Linked DNA regions of Homo sapiens: region 2 is linked to region 1. The links come from fine-mapping of genetic effects on plasma protein levels. A gene starts in region 1. The other region holds a variant in brackets. All regions are shown on one strand. Distances are between the middles of the regions. Region 1 holds the start of CNTN4 (contactin 4). Region 2 holds the start of CNTN4-AS1 (CNTN4 antisense RNA 1).

Region 1 (15,221 bases):
TTAAGATATGGGTCTGGCTAGAAATACTGCACAGTGAGTTTTGCCCTTGCATAGCACAGAAGGAAAATCTGGTGAGCCGAATAACTTATAATCTTAGGAATGATGTTTTGTGATTTTGATTCCGATCAGTTCTGTGTTGAGCAGTTTTCAGAGGATTTTTTTGCCTGACTCCAAGTAAGACTTTAATTGAATCCTGCCCTTGCAATATTGTCGCATTTGCCTCTGGTGAATCTTTGATTCAAAAGGCTATTGGAGAAACTGTAAGGACAGAGGAGTTGGGACTTTATTGAGCTTACAGTTTGAATAGCTGCTTTTTAATGTCTGCTATGTTGTTATGTGTGCAGAATTTAGCCTTGAATTATCTCTTCTTACAATTTACTACATTATTTTGAGGGTGATGAGGATGAGGCCTAGAGCCCTCATTACCTCTAATTGTTGATCATGGATATCTACCAGAAAGAATCTAATAATTATGAATGAGGAAAGTCACAAGACTTTTTGATATGGTTTGACTCCCTGTCTGCACCCATAATTCTCATGTGTTGCGGGAGCTGCCCAGTGGGAGACAATCGAATCACGGAGGCAGGTCTTTCCCATGCTGTTCTTGTGATAGTGAATGTGTCTCACCAGATCTGATGGTTTTGAAAACCAGAGTTTCTCTGCACAAGCTCTCTCCTGTCTTTGCTGCCCTCCATGTAAGATGTGACTTGCTCCTCCTTGCCTTCCGCCATGCTTGTGAGGCTTCCCAAGCCACGTGGAACTGTGAGTCCAATTAAACCTCTTTCTTTTGTAAATTACCCAGTCTCTGGTATGTCTTTATTAGAAGTGTGAAAATGGACTAATACCCTTTCTGACCTAGTAGATCAAGTTCTGGGAATTTATTCTGAGTTAATAATTTAAAATGTGTGTAAAATTTAACATCAGTGTATTTATCAATGAGTTATTTATCATAGCAGAACACAAACAACTTGAATGCTCAACAATAGAGAACTGATTATCTGTAGTATATTCTGAAATGGAATATTAAGCAGCTTTTAAAAGTGAGGGGATATATAACTATTGAATGATAGAGAAAAGTTCAGGACACATTGAATATGAAGAAACTGATATTAAAAACATGAACAAAATGAAAATATTTAAGAAAATATGTAATTACAGTTATGTGAATACAATGTAAATTGTTTAGGATAAGATGAAAAGATAAATGATTTGATGAATTCTGTATAAATTGAATGTCTCTAAATTGAATCGCATACCATATGGGCGGATGTGGCCGTTTAAAGGAGACATTTGGTACAGTTGACCCTCATTATTCACAGATAACATATTTGTGAATTTGCCCACTTACTGAAATTTACTTATAACTCCAAAGTCAATACTTAAGGCACTTGAGTAGACACTTGTAGACGCACAGAGGTATTTGTAGATGCACAGAGAATAAAAATTGTAGTTGCCCAATGCACACATTCCCAGCTTAGATCAAACAAAGTGATGCTCTGTGTTCTTGTTTCAGCTCTCATATTCTAAAAAAGTCTCCTTTTTGCAGTATATTTAGTGCATGTTTCTCAAATTTTGGGTTTTTCTGTTGGTGATTTTGCTGCTTAAAATGGCCTCGAGCACAGTGCTGGAGTGCTGTCTAGCATTCCTAAGCAAAAGAAAGCTGTGATGTGCCTCACAGAGAAAATACATGTGTTAGATAAGTTTTGTTCAGGCAAGAATTACAGTGCTGCAGGCCATGAGTTCTATGTTAATGAATCAACAGTATATATTAAAGAAGGTATCTTTATCAGTTGATGAAAATCTTGTTACCAGAGGCTGTCAGGAACATAACCCTTTATTGTCTCCAGTGTTTGCAGTGACTTTATAGAACATAATTACTGAGGACATCAGAAATCAACTATAAATACTTTTGCAACTAATAGACCTTTGGAACAATTATTTTTGGATTTTGTATAAAGAATCCAAAAAAATCTGGAAAACGTGTGGCTAAGAAAACAGTTGATTGGTCCCTAATTCCACCTTATTATGTTTAAATTCAGTGGGTGTCTCACAGCCACGTTTATAAAGGAATCTTGGCTGGGGTGTCAGGTTTCTAGTTTACTTTGACTCTATCTGTCAGTCTGTGTCCAACCTTCATGGCAATTAACTGTGCTTTTGTGTGCTAATTATCATTATCCCAGTATGGGCCCATTATTAGTCCAATGTCCTTAGTTTAAAGCTTAAGTGTCAATCAGTCACCTAAAACAATTGCATAGAAGGAAGCTTTGCAAGGCTGGTTTGAAAGTCCTTAGCTGAGTTCTACTTTATTATACTCCAGTTCGAAACTGAACACAAAGCTCTTCTTGATACAATTGTTTATTTAAATACTGATTTATCTACTTAATTAAAGCAAACTTGAGTTTATATTTTAAAATCAGGGATGGGATAATTGCTACTTTATGCTTGAAGATCTATTCAGGTAGCTATACATTAAACAAGTAAAACCGTAATTATAAAACCTGCACATTTTTATCTGATTGAGTCGCTCCTGCCATTGAACGACCTTATTCAAGTCATTTAGAACAAAGAAAGGTGGCATATATGAGTTTTTTAAAATCCCACTGGATGCCAGGAGTAAGGAGAAAATAGCATCAAATCAGATGTGGTCAGAAAAGAGGTATTTCTTTTCCTGTGATGCTTTTCCTCTTTCCTCCTCTTACAGTAAATCCCCACTTATCAAATCTTCAGATGTGTAGAGAAGGAATAAGGCAGGGGTAATGGGGGAGTGGGACAGAGAGATGCCCTTTCTGGAGTTTGCACAACGGTTGCATGCTGAGTAAAACCTGATGATGTATTCCATTCATGTCTCCAAAAAGTCAAAAGCGGTTTCAGCGTTGATTTCCCTTAAGAGTTATCAGTCCTCATTCAATTGGTTTAATGAGTGTAAGAGGTGACCTTGTGTCTATGTAGATACTCCCATATTAAAAGACCTGGATGTAAAACTTCACATATGTGTAAATAGTTATTTTGGAGGGTGTTGTGAGGGTTATTGCAGCTCTCTGCTCAGCTGCTACTCAGGCTAAACGGGCAGGAGAAATTTTCCACTGTGTTAGAATGATGATTATTTGCAAATTACATGAGCACCAGTAATTCATTCATGCAATGATACAGAGCTGGGTCTCAGTGCAGTGGTATTGAACTTGCTGCTGGGGGCGTTAATTGATTCGTTTGGAACATTCCCCTCCAGAGAATCCCAATCACAGGTCCCCTGATCAAGAAACGGACACGCAGTCGGGGTCCTGGATATGTAGAGACACACGTGTGAGGCTGTTGTCATCAAAATAAACCATTTCTGTCCCCTGACAGGGGTTGAGTCTATTAGGAACACTCCCCAATCCTGGGAGCTTCCGCAAGAGGCTTTCTATCTTGGCAGAGGTGGCAGCTGAGCATCGCTTCTTTGCTGCAGGATGGAAAAAAGGGACTGGATTATTGGCTGCATTTTAAACTAGCTGCTGTTCTAGAGAAAATGTTGGGGAGGGACTGAACAAGCTTAGCACTGGATCAGTGTGGGGGTGTGTTGGTGAAAAGAAAAAATGCCTCCTCCTAACTTAACGTTTAACTGATATCCCCTCAACACGACCCAAATCTGTCTCTCCAGATACACAATGTCTGTTTTCCTAACTACATGGTGAACTGTGGAGCAAGTCTTGGTCATGTTTAGTTTGTTTCCCAGAATCTACTAGAAGACAATGCCTAGCATATAGCAGGCACAGAATAAGGGCCAAAGGGGAGAATGGAAACAAAATATGTACATTTGAAATTTAGAAACACAGTTAAGGGACTTTGCCTGAAATTGTCATAAAACTTTGAAAATTGCTTCAATGTATAGTCCCAGTGGGAGAATGTGACAGCATATTTTATTCTTTGTTCTTTTCTGAAATTCTGTGTCCAGTCTAAAACACGACATTTCCCTTTAATGTGTTAGGAGTATGCATGACTACACAGGAATATTTTCTGGAGAACTTCTGGTGAAGCATATTTTGATAAACAGTCTTACTAAAAGTTATATATATGTACTTTTAATTGACTAGTTGCAGAGAAATAATCAATGTAAAAAAAAATCATACATAGTACAGGTAGTAAAAGTCACAGTTCCGGCAGAAGCACAAAAGCCTTCAAAGTGAGTGGGAACCTGGGAACCATTGATCCTCAGTGGCTGTTTACCATGGAAAACACCTGCATCACCAACATTCCAGTTTTGCAAAAGTACCTCTATTACAGACACATACCAGGCAAGGAGGGAGGAAAAAGCCTGAAAATTTCTCTCCAAGTTTAAGTAATCAGGAAACTTTGGTGGGGAGGTTGGGGTGGGGTGGGGGCGGGGGGGTAACTTCTTTATTTAGCATTAATCTCAGCAATCATGAAAGTCATGGAATTTCAAGTGATGAAAAATTTGACCACAACAATACCTATCACTAGCCTGGTTTTGCCCACTTCTCGAACAGGAATTATAAAGATAATAATTAATTCTAAAAAGCAGAAGACAAAACAAACAAACCAAACCAACACTGAATGAACTAATAAGGCTGCTGCATATATATGTTGGAGTTGGATGTTTATTTGCTTACTGCAGTAGTTTAAAAATAGTTTTCCAGTTAACATCTTTTCCACATAGTGGAGATGTCAGGGTAGGTTTACATGATTGCGTAAATGGTCAGAAGTTGTTTATGTAGCTCTGAACTGCTGAGAGATGAGCAGGAAGACCTGGGTTCAGCAAAACCCTTGGGGCTTTTTCCCAGAGAGAGAAACAGAGGCTCCTCTCTGGGTTGCTGGAATGCTTTCCAGACGAATTCGACTGGGTTGGCTTTTCTCTGCCTGTCAAAGTCACTTTGCACAGTGCTGGTGAGGGGCTGGGGCATTGCTGCCAATCTCTACGGTTACCCCGAGGTGTGGAGTTGCGGCGAAGGGAGCCACTTCTGCAAGGAAACAGTAGATTCATAATGTAGAATGACCGTGGCAACGTCGTTCAAAGCACATTCTTTCGAATAACAAGGCTTTCGACATGCCCCACCCCCGCGCACAACACACCACAAATTGATCCTTGTACCTAATTTACAGCAACTGTTCCCTCTGACCTCCCCCCGCCCCCGCCCCACATTCCAACCTGAAAGCACTTTGCGTGGATGAGACTTCAGGTGTGTAACGCAGCCTGTCCAGCCAGTGTCCTCCGCCTAAGGACAGGCAGGTAAAAACCTACCAAAGCCCCCTCTTCTGGCCTAAGTTCAATGCCACCCGCCCACCCACATTCCCCGGTTCAGCAATTTTCAGCCCAGACGCAGAAGCATCTGTTTCCCTGGCCAGGGCGCCTTAACGATCCCCCGAATTCCGCGTCTCCCGGAGGCCAGAGGTTTGGGTACCCAGGAAGGTCGCGCCTCCTCGTGCCCCGATACTCGGGTTGTAAAGGGAGGAGACATCGCCTCGGCGCATCCCTGGCCGCTGAACAACGCAACCCCTACGTCCCCGCACGGGAATCCGGCTGATAATCTCCTCTTGCCTGAGAATCGGGCCAGGCGCCCTTTACTAATTTCGCGCGCTGGGGACCTGGGGCTGCCGCCTCTCGGCCGCGCGGGGCAGGTGCTGCGTCCCCAGCGCTCGCCTCCTCCGGCCGCGCACTGAGCATGCGCGGGCTCCGGGCCTCCGGCGCGTCTCCCCGTCCCCGCTCGTCTCCCGCCCGTTCCCACCCGCCCGCGCCTCTCCCCTTCCCCGAGCGTCTCCCCCGCCCCGCGGCTAAGGAGCCGGCAGCCCGAACTCCGGCGCGCCAGGTTTTTCCAGCCGCCGCGAGCGCCGGGAGGGAGGGCAGCGCCGCGCCAGACGGAGCCCGGGGTTCGACGCCAGGATTGGCTGCAAGTAGGGAGCTTTCGCCGCCGCCCCGGGCCCCTCGGACTGTGCCGGCGCCGCACCCGAGGCTCTCGCCAGCCCGGCGCCCCGGTGCTGAGGTAAGTGAGGCGGCAGCTGTGCGGGTCCGGCTCCTGCGTGGGCGCGCGATGCCCCGGGGACGCGGTCGCGGGTGTGGGGGGGAAAGGGCAGGGTCCGCGCGGGTTGCCCGAAGGACAGGGGCGCTTCCCGGGGCTCTGACTCCCGCGGGGCCGGGCAGCGTCTGCGGGGCCGTCCAGCTCAGAGCCCGGAAGCCCTGCAGGGTCGGGGAGCGGGAGCTGAACGCCTGAGCGCGGAGGACTCAGGGCCCCGACGACGCCACCGTCACCCCACAGCGACCCTTCTTCTCCTTCTCAGCCGGAAAATAAGTTTGTTGCGCTGCGAGGCAGCCACAAAACAAGGAACCGAGAGCCCGGAATGCTGCGGGAAGCCTTCAAGTCAGCTCCTCCGACTGGTTCGGGCTACTGCCCCCTCTCCGTGCGCCCTGGCCTCTGGCGCCGGGTTCCCGGCGGGGCTTTTCTTCTGACAGCCCAGTCACAGCCCGCAGCAGAGGGACGCGAACCTGGGGAGTGGAGGGACCTGGGACTAAAGGAACAGGAGCCCGTAGCCGTGGTGGAAGGAGCCGCGTGGAGACGGAGGCTGATGTCTGTGGCGCCCGCTGGGTGCCGGGCTGGCTGCTGAGCGCTGAGGCTGCGGCGGCGAGCGACAGGCCAGGTGCCTGCTCTTAGGGAAGGTACCTGGCTTCCCCAGTCTCTGCCGCGGGAGCCTGTTGGGTGGCATTCGTTTCCAGCAACTTCTGGGGGGTTTCCAGTTTCTTTCGAGAGGCAAGACAACCGCCCCGTCCCCTCCCCGGGCCCAGACGGCGGCGAACTGTGCGCCGGGCGCCCCACAGACCCCAATCCACTCACTCTCCTTCTGGAACGCGGGGCTCAAAATCTTCGTGCATTTTCTCTCTTGTGCTTCGTGTATATGTTTTACTATTTATGAAGGGTGTGGAGGTGAGGGTAGGAGGACGTGGGCTCCTGAATCCCTCTGAACCAGCCAGAGAGTCGGCTGCATGGAAACATTTCGCAGCGAAGCTCCTGCGAGGAGGCGGCTTCGCGCGTCGGGAAGATCAGGCGGTTGCTTGCTGGCCAGGGTCTGCAGATTCGGTGCGAAGAAGCTGGCGGAGGTTGTGTAGGGCGAGTCAGTGTGACTGAGCACCCTGGGTGTGTGGTCTGCGTGGAGGAGAGTGGGCCGGATCTTGAGGTGTGTTGGAGGTTTATTTGTAAGAGGAGTTCCTGAAAGGAATGTCGTGGAACTTTTTCTAGTTTTCCTGCTGGAATCAACATAGGGGCGGGCACATGTTTGTCAGAATAACAGTGGCATTTAACTGCATGGGAAGCTCTTTCAATTTTCTGTAGTGGGAGCTGGATAGTTCAAGGAGTAACTCCACATAACTGAGTCGTTTGGATACCCACACAAGATAATTTGGAACGCGCTTGTATTTTTTTGTTTTTTGAGATTTCTGGTTTATGTCCTTTAGAGAGTGGGGTAGGAGCGTAAAGACTGTATAGGTTGCCTATGAGCAGGTCCATACAATAGCGTTCCCAAGTCTGCCTAATAGCAAGTTTGTTCTCTCTTTCTCTCTCTCTACCCAAGTGGGTGAAAAAGAACAGTGTGTCATGAAGACAGGCACCTGGAGGTGATTTGGGTGGCATTCATGAGAAAATTCACGTTACCCGTAAGTTTATTCTTGCTATTTTTATCTTGATTTCTTTAAAGATTTTGTGGGAATATCTGCAGTGGGTCGCAGGAGTAGGTAAGATTGCTAAGGATCAAAAACAAGTTTCATGAGAATATTATTTTTGCTACCTTATAAAATAGCTATTGATTTGTTTGTTGAAGCTGGTTTCAACTGCTCTGTCTTGTTGAGGAGAGATGATGCTGATAAACGTCATTATTTTTCCATCTGAACCCTGGGAGGTAGCTGGCAAGGATGGAAAAACTGACCTTTTCAATTAAAGACTAAGAGTCTAAGAGAAGTGACTTGGATAAGGGTGCATGTCAGAGCCACATGTAAGTTTCAACAGAGGTAGATTTTCCTATTTGCAGTTTTTTAAACAACACTTTTCAGTTTCTTTGAGTTGTAAAACTTTTCAAGTCAATTGGGAGTCAATGCAGTACCTTTTTCCATGGTCATTTCATATTGGCAGGTAATTAAGAGTGATTAGAGAACAAACCTTTCAAATGATGTTGGATTTTTTATCATTCACTTATTTTACCTACTTCTCTCTCCTTTTTGTTCAAAAGTAGGTCTTCTGATTTCTTTTCCGATCTAAGCACTAAATCTTTTGGCTGCAGTTTTTCTTCTGAAATGTATACAGGGCATCCGTTCCTTCAATTTAGGTCTTAAAAAAATAAAGCTGCTCAGCAGAAAATTCCCATGCATGGTACTGACTTTTCTACAAGTTTGTCTGATCATGATTTTAACTTGTTGTTTCTTCTTTGTTATATTTGAGGACAGACATAATATGCATTAGCTTCAATCTCTCTTATCTTAAAAATTAATATTTTGTAAAAACTTGCTTTTATATTATTTTAGTTGAATAAGTCTATTTCATATGATAGGCAGGGGGAAGTCTCTACACACTGATTTTTTTTGTTCCTTTTTGTTCATTTTTCCCTGTAATGCTATGTTTTAAGCCTAGTGAAGGAGGCAAGGAGGCAGGATTTACTGCCTAGATTTATTGATCTTCATTATTATTATTATTTACTATCAGAAGAAATCTGACAACATATCAATAAAATTTATTTATAAACTGAAGACATGCTGTTATATGATACACTACTTATAAAACACACAAAGAAACAAAAAAGATGAATAAAGCAAAAATTATGAAATAGAAGGTCTCATGTTGCTGTTATGTATCCCGGTGGATCATTTTGTACAGCCCCTGGGGTGTGTAGCACACTTTAAAGATCACTGCTGGTTTGATATTTTTAAAATCTTTCTCTCCTTATCTCTGCTCTGCTGTTCATCATCTCTGATACTCTAGCCAGTTGTAAAACTGCTACACTTCTATATCTTCTGTAACAAATAGATTAAGCACACTTGTTTTCCTCTCATGGACTCATATGTGGATAGAATGAGGTGTAAAGGATGAATGTGTTTTGGAGATGTCATCTTAGATCTCCCAAAGTAGACATACAGGTGAATTTTAAAAAATGGAGTTTTAGTTTAAAGACTAAGTACCAATGGTCAGGAAGTGAAGAATCCAAGGAGTAAATGAGGGAGGATTGGAAGGACACTTTCCACATTGCAGTGTTGTGTGGAGGCTGGAAAGTTCATAAACCTTGAAGCAGATTAACCTGAATCTAAGTCTGGCACCATCATTTATTACATTTACAGTCCTGGGCAATGTAGTTCCTTAATTTCTGTGAGCCTTAGTTTCTTTAGGTATAAAATTGGGATAACATCTATTTCACGGCATCACGATAGGGATTAAACATGAGAGCATGAGTCAACATGGGTCAAGAGCTTGGCTCTTTTAGATTGGCTCTTTAGCAGATATAACAGATCCAAAAGGGATACTGCCTCAGATGTGAAATATATTTATTTCTCGGTTGTGTGAAGTCCCAGAATGGGTGATCATGGCAGTACTCCTTCAAAGTGTGATTCAGAGACCCAGCCTTCATCTGTTCTGTGCCCTTGCCGTCTTCAGCAGGGTCACTGTGCTTACTTGCATCAAGCCATTGGAAAGAGGAAGACTTGGGAGGATGTTAATTGCCCAGAACTGGAATGAGTGCATATTACTTTTCCTTGCATTGTGCTGGCCAGAACCCAGTTCTTTGTGGATGTACGTTACTATTAAGGAGGCTGGGAAATATAGTCTAGAAATGTTATCCAGGAAGTAGAAGAAATTGTTGGGGGAACAACTAGCATTCTCTGATGTTTTATTACTATATGTGATATTTCTTCCATGTTCAATAACTGTTACTTCCTTTTCTTCTCCTAACCCTTGCTTTTTTTTTTTTCTGGTAGAAAAACTGGAATGGATACAATAAATAATAATAGAAGCAGTTAATACATACATAATGCTTACTATTATTGAGATACTTTTTAAAGCACATTGCCCTACTTTGCCCTTCTAATATTATCTCTATTGTACAGATGAGGAAAACTAGGCATAGAGAAATTAAGTTATTTGTTCATCATAGCTAGTAAGTAGCAGAGCTGGGATCTGAACCAGGTTCTCTCACTCCAGAATTGATTTTTTAACAGCTTTTTTTTTTTTTGCTTTTGCCTCAATACTTTTCTTATTTAAGCCACTGGACCGCTTTTTACTTTTGCCTATATATAAAAAAGTTGCCAAGAGAATTTTTTAAAATACTAAAGTAGAAAAAAAGGATATAATCCAAAACATACTGGAATGGAATTAGATATGATACAGCTTTATCTTGAATACCTACCAGGATCAGGAGCAGATATTTAAAGTAACTCCCCCCACTTACACACCCTTCACCACTACAACTGCTCTTTCATTTGTGATAAACACATTTTCAGGGTCTGTGCCTTGAATTATAACCTTCCTCTGAAGATTCTATTGTGGGAGTCTTGCGCTACCACTTTCATGCTTCAGTATGTGAGGATAAATTCCTCTTCACTTCTCAGCAGAAACAAATATCTTCCCTGGCAGGTTTTTCAGCTAAAATAGCCTCTCCTAACTTTTGATCAAAGGTATTGCTCTTTATCAATATCCCCATCCTCCAAGAAAGGAAACCCTCTTCTTTTCCTATGAGCTTTGCAAAATTATTTTTTATTTATCTATTTATTTATCTTTATTTTCTATATGACTAAGGGGACTGTATATATATCCCAGGTACCGTCTAAAAGAAAATGGTCCCTCTTGTTCTCATCCTGTTGTCCCATTTCCATTAGAGAATCTGCCTCATCTTATGTTTCCTATGTATTTGTCTTTCATAAAAATGCCTGTTAGAGTTTTGGTTCCCAGTGGCTGCAGTGGAAATGTGTAGTGGTCAATAGTAAGCGTATACTTTTTGCTAAGATAGTTATTGTTTCAACATTAAAGAGTGATTTTTTTCCTCTTGTTCAGTATGTATTTGTTGCATCTTCACAATTAGGTAATGATATGTATCTTCTTACCATGTAGGTAGGCATAAATACTGTATACCTACCAGTCATTTCTTTCCCAGAAGCCCCTGTTCATTTCCTCTTTACTTTCCCTGAGCCTCACATCCTGAGAATTTTGCTTTTTTTTCTGAACTCCTCTTTCTTCCAATTTTTTCCACTTCTGTGCCATTTATGTCTACGTGTGTGTGTGTGTGTGTGTGTGTGTGCGTTTCAAGTCCCTTCTTATGATTTAATGGGGTTGGAGGGCTGGAGAGGTTTTCATGTGCTTACTGTCATGTTTTCAGCCAAATTCCACAGGGCCTTGTAACAGGCTAACATGAGCAGATAAGCTCTTAATTTTCAGTGACTTATTTTAACTTTTTACTTCTTGCTCATGTGTGGTAGTTCAGTACTCATAGAATAGATCCTGACTGAGTGGCTGTCCATGGGGTCATTCAGGGAATCAGGTTCCTTAGAGTTTTATGGCTTTGTTCATCTTTAAGTACCTAGAGTCCTCATCATTCAGTCAAGATACAGAGTGTGAGGAGATAAATAATCCAGAGAAGTCTTATTGGAGGTTGTTGTAGGCACAGCCTGGAAGTGGTTGTCATGACTTCTGCCCACATTCCTCTGGGGTGGACCTCAGTCACTTCGACATCCTTTGCTGCAAGGGAAGCTGAGAAGTGGTGTCTAGCTGAGTGCCTGGGGGAGAAGGGTGAAAGGAAAACAGGTTTGGTAAATAACTAGCCAGTCTTTGTCACAGGTTTCCAATGAAAGCATGTGAGAAAATCAGCTAATTCTCTAGGTATGGGGAAAAGAGAGCATGGATTTTGGTTATTTGCCAAATAAATGCCCATTGCCTTGCTTCCTTTTAATTTTGACCTCTATTACTATCCCATTCTTAGTGCATATGGTCTGGGTGGGATTCCGTTTCCCATTTAAGGATTGGAGCATGGGAACCAGGTCTTGTCGGGAAGAGCATTGACTTTTCCTGTCCACAGTAATTGCTTCTAGAACAGAACAGGCATGGACCCAGTGAGAACCACTGCAGTGAGATGCTTTGCTTTTTCTCAGTGGCTCTAGTTGGGCTCCATGTATGCCTTTGAACTAATTCCTGTAGATAAGGAGATTAGAACCAGGGAGCATGTGGGCCTGCCACTGCTGCAGCTGTCTTAACACCAAAAAGAGAACCTAGACCTGCTGAGGTCACCACATACTACTTGAGAATGAAGCCAACAGAACAGTAGCAAGGGGCATGATGGAGCAAAACCAGCTCCTCTTGCATCATGTGAGCCCGTTAATCTGGCTATGCCTAAAGTGAGTTAACCTGGTATATTAGTCTATTCTCACACTGCTAGAAAGAACTGCCTGAGACTGGGTAATTTGTAAAGGAAAGAGGTTCAATTCACTCAGTTCCGCATGGCCTCAGGAAATTTACAACCATGGCAGAAGGCACGAGAGAAGCAAAGGCAGGTCTTACATGGCGGCAGGCAAGAGACAGTGAAGGAGGAAGAGCCCCTTATAAAACCATCAGATCTCATGAGAACTCACAATCATGAGACCAGCATGGGGGAAACTGCTTCCACAATGCAATCACCTCCTACCAGGTCCCACCCTTGACACATGCAAATTATGGGGATTACCTTTCAATTGATGAGATTTGCGTGGAGACACAGAGCCAAACCATATCATTCTGCCCCTGGCCCCTCCCAAATATCATGTCTTTTCACATTTCAACATGCCTTCCCAACAGTCGCCCAGAATCTTAACCCATTTTGGCATTAGCTCAAAAGTCCACAGTCCAAAGTCTCATCTGAGACAAGGCAAGTCCCTTCTACCTATGAGCCTGTAAAATAAAAAGCAAGTTAGTTAATTCCAAGTTGCAGTGGGAGTACAGGCACTGGGTCAATGTTCCTATTCCAAATGGGAGAAATTGGCCAAAACAAAGGGGCTACAGGCCCCATGCCAGTCTGAAACCAGGCGGGGCAGTTATTAAATCTTAAAGCTCCGAAATCATCTTCTTTAACTCTATGTCTCAAGTTCAGGTCATGCTGATGCAGGAGGTGGGCTCCCACTGTCTGGGGCAGTTCTGCCCCTCTGGCTTTGCAGGCTACAGCTCCCCTCCCAACTGCTTTCATGGCTGGAGTTGAGTGTCTGCTTTCATGGCACACAGTGCAAGCTGTCAGTGGATCTACCATTCTGAAGTCTAGAGGACCATAGCCCTCTTCTCACAGCTCCATTAGGCAGTGTCCCAGTGGTGACTCTGTGTTGGGAGCTCCAACCCCCATTTCCCTTCCGCACTGCCCTAACAGAGGTTCTTCATGAGGGCTCTGCCCCTTCATCACACCTCTTGCCTGGACATCCAGGCATTTCCGTACATCTACTGAAATCTAGGCAGAGGTTCCCAAACCTTCATTTTTGTCTTCTGCACACCCACAGGACGAACACCATGTGGAAGCTGCCAAGGCTTGGGGCTTACACCTTCCGAAGCAACAGCTTGAGCTATACCTTGGCCCCTTTTAGCTACAGCTGGAGTGGCTGGGACGCAGGGCACCAAGTCCCTAGGCTGTACACAGCAGGGAGCCCAGTGCCTTGTCCAAGAAACCGTTTTTCCCTCCTAGACCTCTGGGCCTGTGATGGGAGGGGCTGCCGCCAAGATCTCTGTCATGCCCTGAAGACGTTTTCCCCATTGTCCTGGCTCCTCCTTACTTCTGCAAATTTCTGCAGCTGGCTTGAATTTCTCCCCAGAAAATGGGTTTTTCTTTTCTACAGCATCATCAGGCTGCAAATTTTTCAAACCTTTTTGCTCTGCTTCCCTTTTAAACATAATTTCTAATTTCAGATCATCACACTCAAGTTTAAAGTTCCACAGATCTCTAGGGCAGGGGCAAAATTCTGCTAGTCTCTTTGCTAAAGCATAGCAAGAGTGACCTTTGCTTCAGTTCTCGATAAGTTCCTCATCTCCATCTGACCTGGACTTCATTGTCCAAATCATTATTAGCATTTTGGCCAAAACCATTCAACAAGTCTCTAGGAAGTTCCAGAGTTTCCCACATCTTTCTTCTGAGTCCTCCAAGTCTCTAGTAAGTTCCAAACTTTCTGACATCTTCCTGTTTTCTTCTGAGCCCTCCAAACTGTTCCAGCTCTATCTGTTACCCAATTACAAAGTTGCTTCCACATTTTCGGGTATCTTTATAGCAGTACCCCACTCTCTGCAGTACCAATTTACTGCATTAGTCTGTTCTCACATTGTTATAAAGAACTACCCAAGACTGGGTGATTTATAAAGGAGAGAGGTTTAATGGACTCACAGTTCTGTATGGCTTGGGAGGCAACAGGAAACTTAAAATCATGGTGGAAGGGGAGAGAGAAGCAAAGGTATATCTTACATGGCAGCAAGCAAGAGAGAGTGAATGAGCAAAGGAGGAAAATCCCCTTATAAAACGATCAGATCTCGTGAGAATCATTCACTATCACGAAAACAGCATGAGGGAACTGCTCCCATGATCCAGTCACCTCCCAATCACCACCCTTAACACTTGGGAATTATGGGGATTACAATTTGAGATAAGATTTGGGTGGGGACACAGAACCAAACCATATCAGCTGGTGATTTTGCAGCTCTTCAGATTCATAAATTACCCTTTGACGTAAGCTGATTTGGGTTGGATTTGTATGACTTAAAGTGAATACTGATTTATTAGACCAAGCAAAAAAGAGGAAAGAATACTGGATAAGGAAGGGAGTGGGGGTTTTATTTGTTTGTTTGTTTTCCTGAGCTCATCTTATGTCACTTTGGTTGTGTGCCTAACAGTTTCACTCCCTTGTAATACATCAGACTTCCAGTCAAGAACCATTTGGCATACCCCTACCCAGGCACATAGAGCTCTCACTAAATTATAAACCCGAAGCTGTTAATTCTTCTCAAAGCTGATCTCTCCTTACAGAGTTATGGAAGGGAAATGGAGGTGAAATCACATCCTCAGGCTTAATTCCCTCTTTCAAGATTGCCTGTGGTCCCTCCTGGATGATGCTTTCTTTTCCAGCATCACTTCCCTGTTCCTATCCTCCCCCAGGCTTGCAGACCAACTGTAACAATCTAATCACCCATCCTGGAACTTTTCATGTGCCTTTTCTTTTTTTTTTTTTTTTTTCATGACTGTTTACATTGCCTCTCTCTTTGGCCTCCTCTTAC
Region 2 (15,221 bases), 960 kb after region 1:
TACACAAATTCTATACCATTGTATATCCAGGACTTGAGTATCCACAGATTTTGGTATTTTAGGGAGGTCCTGAAGCCAGTTCCCTGAATTACCAAGGTACCAATGAATAACTCTCTCTCTTTCTCTCTCTCTCTCTGTGTGTGTGTGTGTGTGTGTGTGTGTGTATTTGTGTGTGTGTATGTGTGGTACCTCCCGTGATATCTCACGTCCCATGATAGCTCAGGAAACTCTCCCTAGTGTCACTTTTAGGGTGAGATTAGAGGCTGAATAAAAAGCGGATCTGATTGCAACGGAAGAGTTGACCTTTGCTAGAGAATTTGACCCATTAAATATGGCTATTGTTTATCTCAGACTGACCCTTTCCAAAATTAAGTTTTCCTCCCAAATACTGAACATGTTGGGGTGTGGGTTTATTTTCCCTTCTTCACTAAGTTGTCTGAATTCTTTAGATCTCAGCTTAGGTAGACAGTCTCAACAAGAAGCTGACTTTAGAAAGTTTAAGGCCCCAAATATTTTGTCAACACAAATCCTTAAGCTACTTTATGGCATTAGAGCTAAAAGGAGAGCATCTGGTTTTAGTATCACAAATTAAACTACCTGCAGGGCCAGGCAGATAACATAAATGAGTTCTGTTCAGTCCATTCAGAAACTACTACTAATACGTCTACTAAGCACTGTTCCAATTCATCTTAACTTTATATTTTATTTTGTTGTATTTTGAGACAGAGTCTCCCTCTGTCACGCAAGGTGGAGTGTAGTGGTACAATCTTGGCTCACTGCAACCTCCGCCTCCAGGGTTCAAGCAGTTCTCCTGCCTCAGCCTCCCAAGTAGCTGAGACTACAGGCGCCCACCACCACGACTGGCTGATTTTTGTATTTTTAGTAGAGATGGAGTTTCACCATGTTGGCCAGGCTGGTCTTAAACTCCTGACCTCAGGTGATCCGCCTGCCTCAGCCTCCCAAAGTGCTGGGATTACAGGCATGAGCCACCATGCCTGGCCTCATCTTAACTGTATAATAACCATGAAGATAGGTACAGTTATTATTGCTAGTTTTACGGATGAAGAGCTGTGGCATAGAGTTTAGTCACTTGCCTTTCACACAGCTGGTATGTTGAAGACCTGGGATCCGAATACAGCAGTATGGATCCTGAGTTCTACATTTAGCCACTTGGTGCTTCTGCCTACCAGCCATAAATAAATAGAATAAGTGATAACAAAGTACTGCAGAGAAAAAGAGGCTAGAGTGAGGGGAATAGAGAAAGCCATGGAGTGGACAGGAGAGATGTATTATTTTATAGAAAGGCCAAGGAAAGCCACTTTTAAGTGGTGAGATTTCAGTTGGGCCTTGGCACCTCTCTGGGAATGTCCCAAGTACTGCAAAAAAGGAAGTGCAAAGGTCCAGAGGTAGGCATGTGACAATGTAGCAACATTGGAAGTGTTGGGACTATCACCAACTGCAGAGTTTGTGATTGTTCAGAATGAGACTTCTCAACTCCAACCAGTTGTTGGCAGACAGGAATATAGATCACTGGCTTAGTCTATTTTATTCTGGATCGCACTTTTGTAGAGTCTTACTCAGGAACAGAATACCTGAGACTGGGCAATTAATATGAACAGAAGTTTATTGACACCCAGTGCTGGGAGGGAGAGGGATAGAGAGCTGACTCGCCCTTTTACAACAGTGCTAATTCCATCTGTGAGGGTGAGCCTAATCACCTCATGGCCTAATTATCTCTTCAAGGTTCACCTGTTAATACAGTTAAAATGGCGAATTTCAACATGAGTTTTGGAGAGGACAAGCATCCAAAGCATAGCAACCAGTGTGGCCATATCTTCCAGTTTTTCAGTAGAACCCACAAATTTTTAATGTCTAATTTCTCGGTTTTTAAATGTTCATGTCTAACTCAAAAAAAATAACACTATGACAGCCAAACAAATAATATATGCAGGCTGGTTATGACCCATGGGCCACTAGTTTTTTGCTGTCTAACTCCCTTGGTTTGTGTTCCCAAAGACAGATGCCAGAGAGGGAAAGCAATTTGCCCAGAGCCCTACAGGTGGTAGCCAAGGTAGTCTTCGTTAAAAATCCAGGTTCTGAGGCCGGGCACGGTGGCTCACACCTGTAATCCCAGCACTTTGGGAGGCCGAGGTGGGTGGATCACCTGAGGTCAGGAGTTTGAGACCAGCCTGACCAACATGGTGAAACCCCGTCTCTGCTAAAAATATAAAATCAGCAGGGCATGGTGGCGCATGCCTGTAATGTTAGCTACTTGGGAGGCTGAGGCAGAAGAATTGCTTGAACCCGGGAGGCGGAGGTTGTAGTGAGCTGAGGTCACACCATCGCACTCTAGCCTGGGCAATAAGAGTGAAACTCCGTCTCAAAAAAAAAAAAAAAAAAAATCCAGGCTCTGGAGCCAGACTGCCTAGGTTTGAATGCAGGATCCGCCACTTACCAGTCATGAGACCGGGCAATTGCTTCACATCTCCACATCTCAAGTTCTCATCTTTGAAATCAGAATAATAACATTGCCTTCCTTAAGAGGTTATCCACATAAGCATTTAGAACAAGCTTGTACAGCCCACAGCCCACAGGCTACATGTGGCCCAAGATGGCTTTGAATGTGGCCCAACACAAATTCATAAACTTTCTTAAAACATCGTAAGATGTTTTTTGCAATTTTTTAAAAGTTCATCAGCTATCATTAGTGTTAGTGTATTTTATGTGTGGCCCAAGACAATTTTTCTTCTTCCAGTGTGGTCCAGGGAAGCCAAAAGATTGGACACCCCTGATTTAGAACACACAGTGTTCAGACATTAAATAGTGGAAGTAGTCTATAATATTTGCTATTATCATTATTCCCACAAATCCATTCTTTCCCCTTGTCTTCCACCCTAGATTATATCAAATGCAAGCACAGCCTTCAATCAGCTCAAGCAAGTGTTTGGTGTAAATAAAGGCTTTACAGGACTTTATTTGGGTTCTGCTGCAGTCCATAATACTGCAAGACTGATAAGCAGTGCTGATAAAAGTGCTGCTTTTTCCTGGAAGTGTTTCTTTTGGATTTATATTTGAAACAAGTTGAATCCTCTGAGCTCTTGCAAGGACCAGAGGTAAATCAAAGCAGCAATTTATTCCTCAAAGCCAGATGTGACCTTGCATCCCATCAGCCCATTCTCCTGGAGGGCCGTGATGAGAAGCTTTGACACTCCTGAATGTGCCTGAGGATTTATCTGTGCCTAATCATCAGCAAGGGGATGCTGGGTCTGATACAACTGATGCTGCGGAGAAGAAGGGGACACTTATGAATCTTTCTACCTTAAGGAAATTGTGTTTTCCACCTTGTGTTAGAGAGATATAAATTAAGGTGATGAAATGCCAGGGAACAGATGGGTTCTAAACCATTCTAAAGGAATTTTATGAATTTCACTTGTGTCTGGTTTTGTCTTGAGACACAAGAGTGACCTTATGTCTGTAGCCTCAGCAGATCAGAATTTATAAGGGATCTTAGGGAAGGATGAGCTAATCTCGTGCTTCTCAACGCATGATCCCTGGACCATCAGCACTGGCATTAGCTGGGAACTTGTCAGAAATGCAGATTTTCAGGTCCCATCCCAGAACTAATCACAAACTCCAGGAATGGGGCCCAGCAATTTGTGTTCTAACAAGTTCTCCAGGTGATTCTGTTCACGCTTGAATTTGAGAACTACGCGTCTAATTCATCTAATCATGATGCCTATCCCATATTAACATCTCCTGATGATCTTTTAGAAAACAACTACAGCATGGATCCCACCTCTGTGCAGTCTTAGGCAGGCTAGAGTGGAACTGGAGCGGGGTTACTGACCTCCTCACAGTCAACACTTTGAGCTAGAGAGTTCTTTGTTGCGGGGCTGCTCTGTGCATTGTAGACTGTTCAGCAGCATCCCTGGTCTCTCTATCCACTACAACAGGAGGACATGTTTTGACAAACATGTCTGCAGACATTGCCAGATACCTCCCTGTGAGGCAAAATTGCTCCCCTGCCCCTCCCACCCTGTTGAAAACCACTGAGCTACAGCATAAGTATTTTACAAGCACCCCAATGGTTCTAACATGCAGCCAGGACCAAAAACCACTGACCTCATCCAACCCTATCTTTTTGTCAGGGGAAACTACAGAGGATGAGCTTTAGTGGTTCTATAGGTAAAGGCACACTTTCCCAGACCTGTATATTTTGTTCCTGATTGGAGTAAATCCAATCACAGCAGGCAATCCCAGGTAAGTGAATGTGTTTTTAGGAGGCTAGTTGGCCACCTCATCAAATGAATCCACCTCCAAACTCAGAACCCATGGGGGGCCCAAGATGAAAACAGGACTGTTGCAAGCTGCAGATATGTCCAGGGTGACAATGGTTGCCTCTTGGCTACCTAGCCCCATAAAGTGGGGTTCCAGAGGAAAGGAATGGGAGGTTACTACTCTTGCCTTTCCGATATCTTCTCCCTGTGCTGAAATGTCCTGTCTCTAAGAGTCGTGATCATAACTTATTGTGCCTGGCTTGTGCTCTAACCTTTGCCATGTATGTTCTCTGATTATCTTTAAGCCTTCAGAGATACTATTTCTTACATGCTTCCTCTAAGCTAGGCCATCACCAGATTCAAACCTTGTGCAATCTTTTGTATTTTTATATTTTTGAGACAGTCTTGCTCTGTCACCCAGGCTGGAGTGCAGTGGCTTGATCTCGGCTCACTGCAACGTCTGCCTCCCGGGTGCAAGCAATTCTCCTGCCTCAGCCTCTGGAGTAGCTGGGATTACAGGTGTGTGCCATCATGTCTGGCTAATTTTTGTATTTTTTGTAGAGACAGGGTTTCGCCATGTTGGTCAGGCTGGTCTCAAACTCCTGGCCTCAAGTGAGTCACCCACCTTGGCCTCCCAAAGTGCTGACACTATAGGCATGGGCCACTGCACCCAGCCTCCTTGTGCAATCTTGAAAACACACTCCAGAAGACTGGGTATTATTGTCCCCCTTTTACAGATGACTGAAGTGAGGCTCTGAAAGGTGAAGTGGCCTGTGATCCCACAGTGGCCAAGTTTATTCTGATGCCAAAGCACCGATGTGTAACTGAGCACTGTACATCCTTAAGGAGCTACTCATATTTTCCACTTTCCCAAGAGTGTCAACTGAGCCTCCGAGAGGCTAGGCAGTAGGTAGAATCACGTTGCTGATGCCCCTGATATAATATCCTTTCAGCTCTTTCCTTGGAATAAAATGGTAGCTGCAGTCATGGCCCTCACTGCAAATGAGCCTTCCAAATGCAAGTGGGCAGCCAGACAACCTCTACATCCCTGCATTTTGCTCGTGCCCAGAGGTGAAAACAAATGAATGCTCCATATTTGGGACCTTTGTGAAGACGGCAGGTGACACCTGTTCTTTCTGTATTGGCAGGTCTTGTACAGATGGAACAGACAAAGCAGCACATCTGTCATTGAAACAAATAAAACATCGGTGGAGCTTTCTTTGCCTTTCGATGAAGATTATATAATAGAAATTAAGCCATTCAGCGACGGAGGAGATGGCAGCAGCAGTGAACAAATTCGAATTCCAAAGATATCAAGTGAGAATGCCTTTTTTTCTCCCTTTTCTCCTGCCTGTCTTATCTTATCAGCCTTCCAGATGAGTCAGGGCTTGAAAGACATTCAGCCTGCAAAAGCAGACTTAAAATAGAAATGGAGAACACTACCCCCCTTCTCCAGATGTTTGCTGGCCATAGGCAGTTTCATGCAAAAATCAGTTTGCCCGTGTTGACTGATCTACTCAGTTGCTAATCAAAAATCAGATTAAAGCAGACCCGAATTAGTCACTAAGGTTTTTCCGTGTCAACCTGTGTAGTTTGCATTGCATCTATTGTAGCCCCAGAATTACAGTTTAGAAAGTGAAAAGCATTGACTCAGTCAGAAGGAACAAGGACAAGCATTGTTAAGTATGCCGTAGCAGTTTTTCTCCAGTGAAACAGTGTATGCAGTTCAGTATCTTGGAAATATTTGGAATTTACTACTTATTTTCAATGGGTATATGCAACATGTGCATCAATGTGTATGTCTCTCTATAGTCAAGATTATCTTCACTTTCAAATGTTGTTGAATAGCATGGGAGAATAGCATATTCTTTTTGAGCAAATACATTCAATTCTGTTTTTACAAATACCATGTTTGTAAGTATCTTAAGAGCATGATTTTTTTGTTGTTGTGTGTGATCTCATTTATTTAAAGAAAAAAAACAAAATAGCCAAATCCGTGGAGACAGAAGTGAGGCTAGTGATTGGCAGTGGCTGGTCAGTGGGGAATGGGGGTTTAGGCACTGGGTCTTCATTTGGGGTGACACAAAAGTTATGGAGCTTGAGAGTGGTGCTGGTTGCACAACACTGGAGTATACTTAGTACCACTGATTTGTACATTTTAAATGAGTTAAAATGCTAATTTTGTTATGTGTATTTTACAGCAATAAAAAAAAGACTGTGGTTAGATATCTAAGTGTAGACTTTCACAGGCTTTCAGATTTCAGTCTGGAGATTAGGGGAGCAGTGAAGGCTGGAGGTATAAATTTTCAAGACATTGGTAAAAAGATGATATTTTAAATTATGGACAAAATCCTCACCACCATCCTGACTTTTAGCCATGTGACATCCCTCTGCTAAGGGGTGATATGCCAGTGTTTCTGGATGGAGTTTATATTTACTGCATCTTTTTTGCATACAAACACAAAAGGCATTTTTGTCTTAAAAGGGGGACAATTGGATTATACTTTATCAAACAAAGCCTCTAACTTCTATCGAAAGGGAGCTAGATTTTTGGTGAGATGTGGAAGTAAAATCTCCAGGCCACAAAAATACAAGATTGGGGCTTATCTCGCTTCATTAAAAATCTGACTTTATACTTCATACTTTCTTATCATTGCAGGGATTGACATTTTTAGATAGACTGATGATTCCTGGTTTTATTCATTACAAAAACATATATTAAGCAATTATATTGGTGTAATTATTAGATAACAAGGAAGTGACTGTGAACCAAACATGATCTGTTTCAAGAGATTTTTCATCATGTTGGTCAAAGAGACCTTACAAGATTGAAGAACCCCCGAATGACAGTTGATAGCTTCTTACTATGAAAAGTGTAAGACCCATAAGAAAATTTAAAAAAGGATTGAGGCTATTTTGTTTGCAGAAAAGGGGTAGATTTAGACAGACATGGGTTTGAACCCCAGTTTAGCCATTTACTAGCTGGGTGATCTTAGATAAGTTACTTTATTTCTCTGGGCGCAAATTACCGCCATCTGTTAAGCGAGGTAATAATAATACCTGGCCTTCATCCAGTTTTTGCAAGATTTAAGTGTCATATTCATCTGTGCCCAGCAGAAAGATAGAGTTCAAAAGGGAGCAGCAATTTTCATTTTGTTGAATCATCGACATAGCATGCTGTTTATCAGTATTGTTACTAGTAATATTGAAGTTTCTTCTCACATTAGATAGGAACCTCCTTACTTTACAAATGCTTTGACAGAGGTACAGGGCTGTCCTATACCCTACTCCCAGGTTTGTAGCTTGGTAGTCATAGAACTGATATTTAAAAGCCATTAAGACCTTGATCATCATTTCCAGTAGAATCCATGCAGTTCTGCTGTTTCAAAAAGCCCCGTGGCCCCTCTTCCCTTTGAAGCCGGGATGGGGCTGTTTTGAGTGAATTTGTTCTCTCTTTTCAGATGCCTACGCGAGAGGATCTGGGGCTTCCACTTCGAATGCATGTACGCTGTCAGCCATCAGTACAATAATGATTTCCCTCACAGCTAGGTCCAGTTTATGACAAAAGTTATCTGAAGGACTTGCTGTTTATAATATAAGCAACATTTAGCTAGTTGTTTTGAAGACACCCAGTACTAAGTAATATTGTTGTTCAAGTACATCTTATTACTGGAATAAAAATGTTTTTTGCTTCTTTA[G/C]GAATGGCATTATACAGTACTTCCTCAAAGCAAATCTAGCTTTGTCTGAAGTTTCTTTGGAAACTCTGCAATGCACTGAAGACATCTGTAATATGATGTTACCAAAGCAGTTTACATATGTCCTTATATGCATATTTTTTATTATATATTTAGTGTTTTATAGAATTTTTTAAAGTTAACATATAATGTAGATATTAATTTTTTCCTCGGCTGTAAAATGCTATGGGCAACACAATCATGCAATTATAATTTGAAAATATTTCCTTTAAAGACAGAGTTTGAAACTCATCTTGGTAAATAAATTGCAAATTACTCGTACAGTTTTACAAGGATCTCATGGCAGAACAGCGGAAGACTTGGTCCGTAACTCAAGGCTGTTGTATGCAAACTACTCTTCTAGTGGTTAATGCACTTGACATGTACAGTATGTTTCCCATGCCGTTGTGATTTTGACATGTACAGTATGTTTTCATGCCGTTGTGAATTTTGTTGTTCAACCCAACTTGAGATGGTTTCAGGAATGGCTGCAATCTCAAAAGCTCAATGTACTGCCCAAGAGGCACCTTGTGCAATATTCCCATCCCTGAATTTAGCATTGTACAGGAAGATTTTCTTTTCACTCAACTGAGTTAGCATTGTCTTTGTGGTAGCATTATCTTAGACATTAAATTTGAAGTAACATATATCCTGTAGTAACATAGACCCAAAGTTACTATAGTCAACCAAGTCTTTCAAAGGATAAAAGATCATTTTATTATCTTTAACTGTATCTATTTTGAATGTAAATTTAAAAAAAGTAATTCTCTGTCAATGGATTCGTAATTTCTTTACAAAATTTCTTATATATAATATGTGTATCTCTGTAATAATAGAGCCCTTCTTTTGAATCAAAATTACATATGGACTTTGGAAGATTGCTCCTATTTCAACAAATAGTTGCTGCAAGAATTTTTAATATGACTCTATAAAAGCTCTTTAGTACAATTGTATGGTTTCTTGATGATTCTGTTTTGCAATAGGTAGCCTAGTTGCTTTATATGCTTTACCTTCTAGGTCTTAAAATCACACATTGGAAAATGACAATATCAACAAAACTGTATTCTTATGAAAAGAACTATTTGTTACAATGAGAAAGGTTTTGTGAGTAAACCCTACTGGACAGTGACATAAAAGGCAATGGAATTTTCTATAAACATTTTCTCATGTAAACATGCTGCCACCTTTTCTTCTTTCTCAGAGAACTCAAATTTGCTATAGTTTGTCATTTTTGCTTACAAATAATATAACTTTTCAACCTTCTAGTTATATTTATCCAATAAAGTCATAATCGGGATTCCATTTGTGTAAAAACTAGGGTGGTAACCGGAAAAAAATATTGTCAGTATTTCAAGCTGTGTTCCTTTCTTAGTTTGATATGGTTACTTCTATGTTGAAATAAAATTTAAAATCACATGCAAAAAAAAAATCAGCAAAATAATAAAATGAACGAAAAAAAATGACACCCAGGGAGTTCCCAACCCCAGTGTAAATGATATTTACCAGTGATCTAGCATATGTAATCTTTTTTAAAGGTATTGTTAATAAATATTCTGTCATTTGTAAAGATACTTGTCTTTCGGGAGCATTTTTCCTGCCTGCCTGTCAGGGAATTTGTTAGCTTACCTTTGTGCTAGTTATAATTTGGGATCATAGAGGGACTCAAAAGTCTCTACCCAAATCTAGATGACCCAGAGCTTTTCCTTTGGAATTGACAACCCTGAAGCACCATTTCAAATCCTCTTTGGAAGTAGAGAGGGTCCTAATCCACAAGTAAATGTCCTGAAGATGAGACTTGAATATTTTCTCTTGATTAGCTAAGTCTTTTGTATATTTACTGTAAGTATATCTGTTGTTTCCCTCACCCCCCATTGCTAAAAGGGTAAGTTCTAAGCTTGAGCATTTAAGGCTCTTTTTTTTTTGAGACGGAGTCTCACTCTTGTCACCCAGGCTGGAGTGCAATGTTGCGATCTCGGCTCACTGCAACCTCCGCCTCCCAGGTTCAAGCAATTCTCCTGCCTCAGCCTCCCGAGGCGCCCACCACTACACCGGACTAATTTTTGGATTTTTAGTAGAGACGAGATTTCACCATGTTAGTCAGGCTGGTCTCAAACACCTGACCTCAGGTGATCTGCCCGCCTCGGCCTCCCACAGTGCTGGGATTACAGGCTTGAGCCACCGCACCCGGCCCTTAAGGCCCTTTTTAATCCAAAACGATTTAACTGTGTATCCAGCCACAGTAAGCCCTCCCTGACCCCTGAACACTGCTTGCTTTTGGTCTCACCTCTGTGCCTTTGGTCTTATGGCTGCCCCTTCCTGAAATGCCTTCTCCACCCTTCTCTCCCATTCAGATCCCTGCTGTCCTAGGGTAGCTCCAGCCCCAGTTTGTCTGCAAAGACTTCCCATGCTTCAGTCCTTTATGACATTCTCGCTTGGAAGTAGTTGCATCCCCTATCAATGCTGCTCATTTAGTAATTAATCAGATACTACTTTTGGAAATCTCTTGTACTGTTATCTTGCATTTTAATTTAACTCCTGTATTGTTACTTACTTTTTCTTGTATGTATGGCTTGTCTTCCCAACTAGATTGTAAGCTCCTTGAGGGCAGGGACTTTGGTCTTATCTTCCATGTACTCTCCATAGTGCCTAGCACAGTGCCTTGCAATAAATACTCACTGATTAATTGAATGAAGGGGTCTTTGAAGTAGCATTTTGCATCAGTTGCCTGCCTGTGTGCCACAGCAAACCAACCAGGGAAGACTGTGTCATTACTTTCGTTATGTGCTGAAAAGCGTTAAAAGGCCTGGCTTCTAACTTTGTACCTGGAAGAAGTCTTTGACCAATTGGCTTCATCATCGGGTAAATGAGGTCCTGGATTAGTTGAGTCTAACTGAATTGAAGATGTTTTAGAAAGTGCCCCATGAGCACCTCCACCCAAACTTGTCTCATTTGTTGGCTTTCATGGTTGCCTCAGGTAGGGTCCACTGGCTGTAAGCAAAGAAACGACCCTGGGTAACTTGAGCAAACAAAAAGTAAGGAATTAGAATGACACAGGTTACATCATATGAGCCAAGGAAACACTGAAGGACCAACTCTTGAGGAGAATAAGAACCAGGCCACTCTGTGGGTCCAGACAATGGGAACTTTGGAAAGTCTTTTTGGGGTGCTATTGTGGGGATGAATCAGCTTTGTTTCCAATTTTGACGCCATTATGCTCAATATTCAGATTCCTGGGAAAGTGATCAGTTCCATTTGAGTTCCACAGCCAGAGTACCTTGTACTCACAGGGGAGGGATAGTTAAAGGAAAACTAAGATGCTGTTTTCCAAAGGTAAGAGAAGAAATGCTGGGTTGGTATAAGTAACAGATTTTCTAGGCTTAGCCAGCCAAGGGGACTTTCTTAGGCCCTTAGCCCAAGTAATACACTCGAGTGGAATGACTATATTGCTGCTTGAGATTTTTTTCTGAAGGAGGACCACTAGGAAAATTTGCTTTGCTTGTTTAACCTTTCAAAGTGCTTACTCTTGCCCTCCTTTTTGTGTGTGTAGTCCACTTGTGATTTAACTGTATGAAAGGAAATTCTATTGTGCCAGATATTTGGATTCTCTCAGTGTACCTACTTTCTATGGAGCCCACACATGCTACATACAAAGCAGCACCTTTCCATGGGCACAGAAGACATGGATGATAAGCTTCATTTCTCAGGTAAGCTCTGAATTCTTCCAGCCTGTGAGGTAGAAGGTGCATAGACTTTGATATTAAGAAAGAATGATTGTGTTATTCCCACCATCAAAATTGTGGTTGTTTATATCCAGGAGGCAATGTTAAATCCTGATTAACCTTTACCCAGTCTCTTCCACCACCTTGCCTCACTACAAATATGCGCAAAGAATGTTGAGTTATAAAAAGTATACAAATAGCACATAATTAGCAACAAAAATGTCATGCAGTTTTTAATCTAATGTAATCAACCAACAGGTGATTTTTGTTCACTACATTGGATTATCGATGCTACTGTTCTCCTCCGTTAACACTTATAATCAAGAAGTGACTGTTATTTTCCTGTTGTTACAATTTACAAAATGTTCTGGCTAAAAACGTTATGTGGCCAACCATAGTGCTTTGAAAGGCAAGCCTTTAAAATCAAGGACTTATATTCAATCTGTGGACATACCCCAGATTTTTCCATTACAAAATGCCAGACACTGAGGCCTTACAAAGGCAGCCTAATACAAAGACTAAGGACGTGGATCCTGGAGTTTGACTGCCTGGGGTGCATTGTAATGATTGGCTACTTATTAGGGAGGATAAAGTTTGTAAAGCTCTCCAAACAGTGATGATTTTACCGTCTGTTATTGTTCTTTTTCTCCAGGGACTTTACTAGACCCACAGATGTAGGATGTGGATGCTTCTTATCACCAAAATGAGTGGAACTCAGCTGACACATCCATTATCACCTTTTATTTAAACATGATCACTTCTTAATATAAATTTTAATGTTCGATAATTTTAATCATACAATCAACTAATTCAAACTTAGGCAGTAGGGTTCCCATTCAGATGCCAGGTTTTGCACAAAGCCTCCCTCAGCTTCCCCATCTGAAATTGACCTTGCATTTCTCTGACCTCCAGGGGATGGGGTCTGTACCCACTCATGTCAGTCATCCCTTCGTACCTTATATTTAAATCATTTTTGTTGGTGTCTTCCGCCTTATAGTAGACACACGGCACCTCAGCGTTGGCATCTGGGTGTGGTTCCTCATTGTGCTCCCAGGCACAAGGCCTGTGTCACCTCCATCTCAGACCTAGAGGGAGGAGAATATCTGGCCCCGTTTCCTGTGATTTCCTCAGGCCCCCTGCCAGAGTGTGATTAGTAAATGCAAGTCAGGCTGCCCATTCTGCAAAGAGGCCCCGTTTCCCCTTGTGCTAAATGGGCCATGCGGATTAAATGTTCCAGCTCTGCAACTCACCTGCAAACTACAATACTCAACAGAGATCACAGTTTAAACAAAATTGGCCTCTATCCTTTATCACAAGCAGTTATGGGCCATGGTAGATTAGCAGAGCTCTAGTGATATAGATCACATAGAGAGAAAGCTTTTTTTAAAAAAGGTCAACCATATGATCGATCTGAAAGTCTGGAAATTGGAAGGCTGAGCTACTTAAATATAGATGCAATTACATGTGATATCCCCATTCTCTGTAAACTGGGTTTTTGCCACATATCCTTATTGTTAGGAATAACACGAACTATACCAGGAAATATATATGTCCTAGGACTTTAACAAATAGTAATATCTTTAATTTGTTTTTCTAGTTTTCAAAGTGCTTTTCACACTAATAAGGGGAGGACATAGGTTTTTATTCCTTTTTTATTTATGAAATGGAAGCAAAGAGGTTATATAAGAAGCCCAAAGTAACATAGACAATTAGAAAGTCAGGGCTGGGCATGGTGGCTCACACCTGTAATCCCAGCACTTTGGGAGACTGAGGTGGGGGGATCACAAGGTCAAGAGTTCGAGACCAGCCTGGCCAACATGGTGAAACCCCATTCCTACTAAAAATACAAAAATTAGCTGGGCATGGTGGCACGTGCTTGTAGTCCCAGTTACCCAGGAGGCTGAGGCAGGAGGATTGCTTGAACCTGGGAGGCAGAGGTTGTAGTGAGCTGAGATTGCCCTACTGCACTCTAGCCTGGGCAAGAGAGTGAGACTCTGTCTCAAACAAAAGAAAAAAAAAAAAAGAAGGACTAGAATTTAGAACATAGACTCATTAGTGCATTTCATACACCTAGAAATAAGTACTTAGAGAAAGGACAGGATGGAGTAAGGAACTAGACTCTGAAGTTCAACTAGAGAACATTCTAGGACAAGTAGGTAGGCCAGAGGAAATGGTGAGGTAGAAGGGTGAGATGTCTGAGGTTCAGATGCTGGAGGTGGAGAAGTTCTGAGTGCCGGCCAGGCCCAGGGCACAGCCATCTGGAGGAATGGGATAGGATAGGTGCCTGGAGAGGGTTTTAGTTATTCAGCAAGGGACTACTGGCAGCCCTCTCTGTACCAGGCACTATTCTGGGCATAGAAGAATGATGTGGCATTCAGATGTGTGTGAGGAAGCCAAGGCACCAGTAACAGTATTTTGTCACAATACAGAGAAATGCAATGATAATAATAATAGTAAACAGTGATTATGCTTATAATATGTGCCAGACTCAGTGCAAATCAACCTACCGATTTAGTTACCATTTATTATTCCTATTTTATACACAGAGGATTGAGGTTGACAGGTTCACATTTGTCCCTGATCACACAGTTGATCAGAGAGACCAGGAATTGAAATGCTGGTGGCTTGGGTTTAGGGCCCTACTCCAAAACATTAGATGTCTCTATCTGTAAATAGATGATACATAAACAATAAGGTAGGTAGATAGATAAATAGACAGATAGATACGGTTCCCATATAGCAACAAGAAGGAAAGGCAGTCATGAGCTTCAGTCTGCTCTAAAGTGGCTCAGCTTCTCTGCTTCTCTTTCCTTGACTGCAAATGTTGTTTTTTGCGTGTTCGTTGTCCTTGACTTCAGGTGTCTTAGAGCTGTTTCTTTAAACTCCGGCTACCCTTCAAGATCAGGATTACCCAATAAAATAGGAGAGGAGCTATTAAACTTAGATTTCAGATAAAAAAAAAATTATGCTTCCTTAGTATAAGTATGCCCCATGTGATATTTATTTGAAATTCAACTTTAACTGAGCCTCTTATTTTTATTTGCTAAATCTGGCAACCTGACACCAGGAGGTCTTCATTACTCTCATTGAAGTAATTAATTTGTAATTCAAAATTTCAGGGTCTTGCGAATGTGTTGTCAGATCTCTGAAGGTCAATGGCTCTGAGGGCGAGACATGAAGTTTGCTGTTTTGAGTTCTGTTTCGTTTGCTGAACTCTCCTTCCCACTTTTCCTTGGATGGTGTGAGGATGGGATGTGTGTGTGTCCAGAGAGACAGGGCTGGTGGGTGAAGTTCCTCTTAGAGCTGGCAGAAAAGAGGTTTTGTTTTTTTTTTGTTTGTTTTTTGAGACGGAATTTTGCTCTTGTTGCCCAGGATAGAGTGCAATGGCGCAATCTCGGCTCACTGCAACCTCCGCCTCCCGGGTTCAAGTGATTCTCCTGCCTCAGCGTCCTGAGTAGCTGGGATTACAAGCATGCGCCGCCACGCCTGGC

The links. PIP is the chance, under the fine-mapping model, that this variant and not a neighbour inherited with it causes the effect. Sun 2018 read protein levels with aptamers (SomaScan).
Region 2: its variant is fine-mapped to the plasma level of the CNTN4 protein (Sun 2018, PIP 0.95).

The regions. Positions count from the first base shown.
Region 1 is chr3:2,093,004-2,108,224 of GRCh38, forward strand. It overlaps CNTN4 (contactin 4), which reads left to right and starts at 5,863. Exons shown (of 25, transcript NM_175607.3): 1 at 5,863-5,975; 2 at 7,555-7,636. LOC124909338 (a long non-coding RNA gene) reads right to left here and starts at 5,252. Exons shown (of 2, transcript XR_007095785.1): 1 at 5,144-5,252; 2 at 4,578-4,955. RefSeq lists an enhancer at 1,819-2,426.
Region 2 is chr3:3,048,382-3,063,602 of GRCh38, forward strand. CNTN4 (contactin 4) reads left to right here. Exons shown (of 25, transcript NM_175607.3): 24 at 5,426-5,594; 25 at 7,739-9,578. The coding sequence ends at 7,839. It overlaps CNTN4-AS1 (CNTN4 antisense RNA 1), which reads right to left and starts at 12,764. Exons shown (of 4, transcript NR_046554.1): 1 at 12,686-12,764. The variant G/C (reference allele first, on the strand shown) is at 7,976.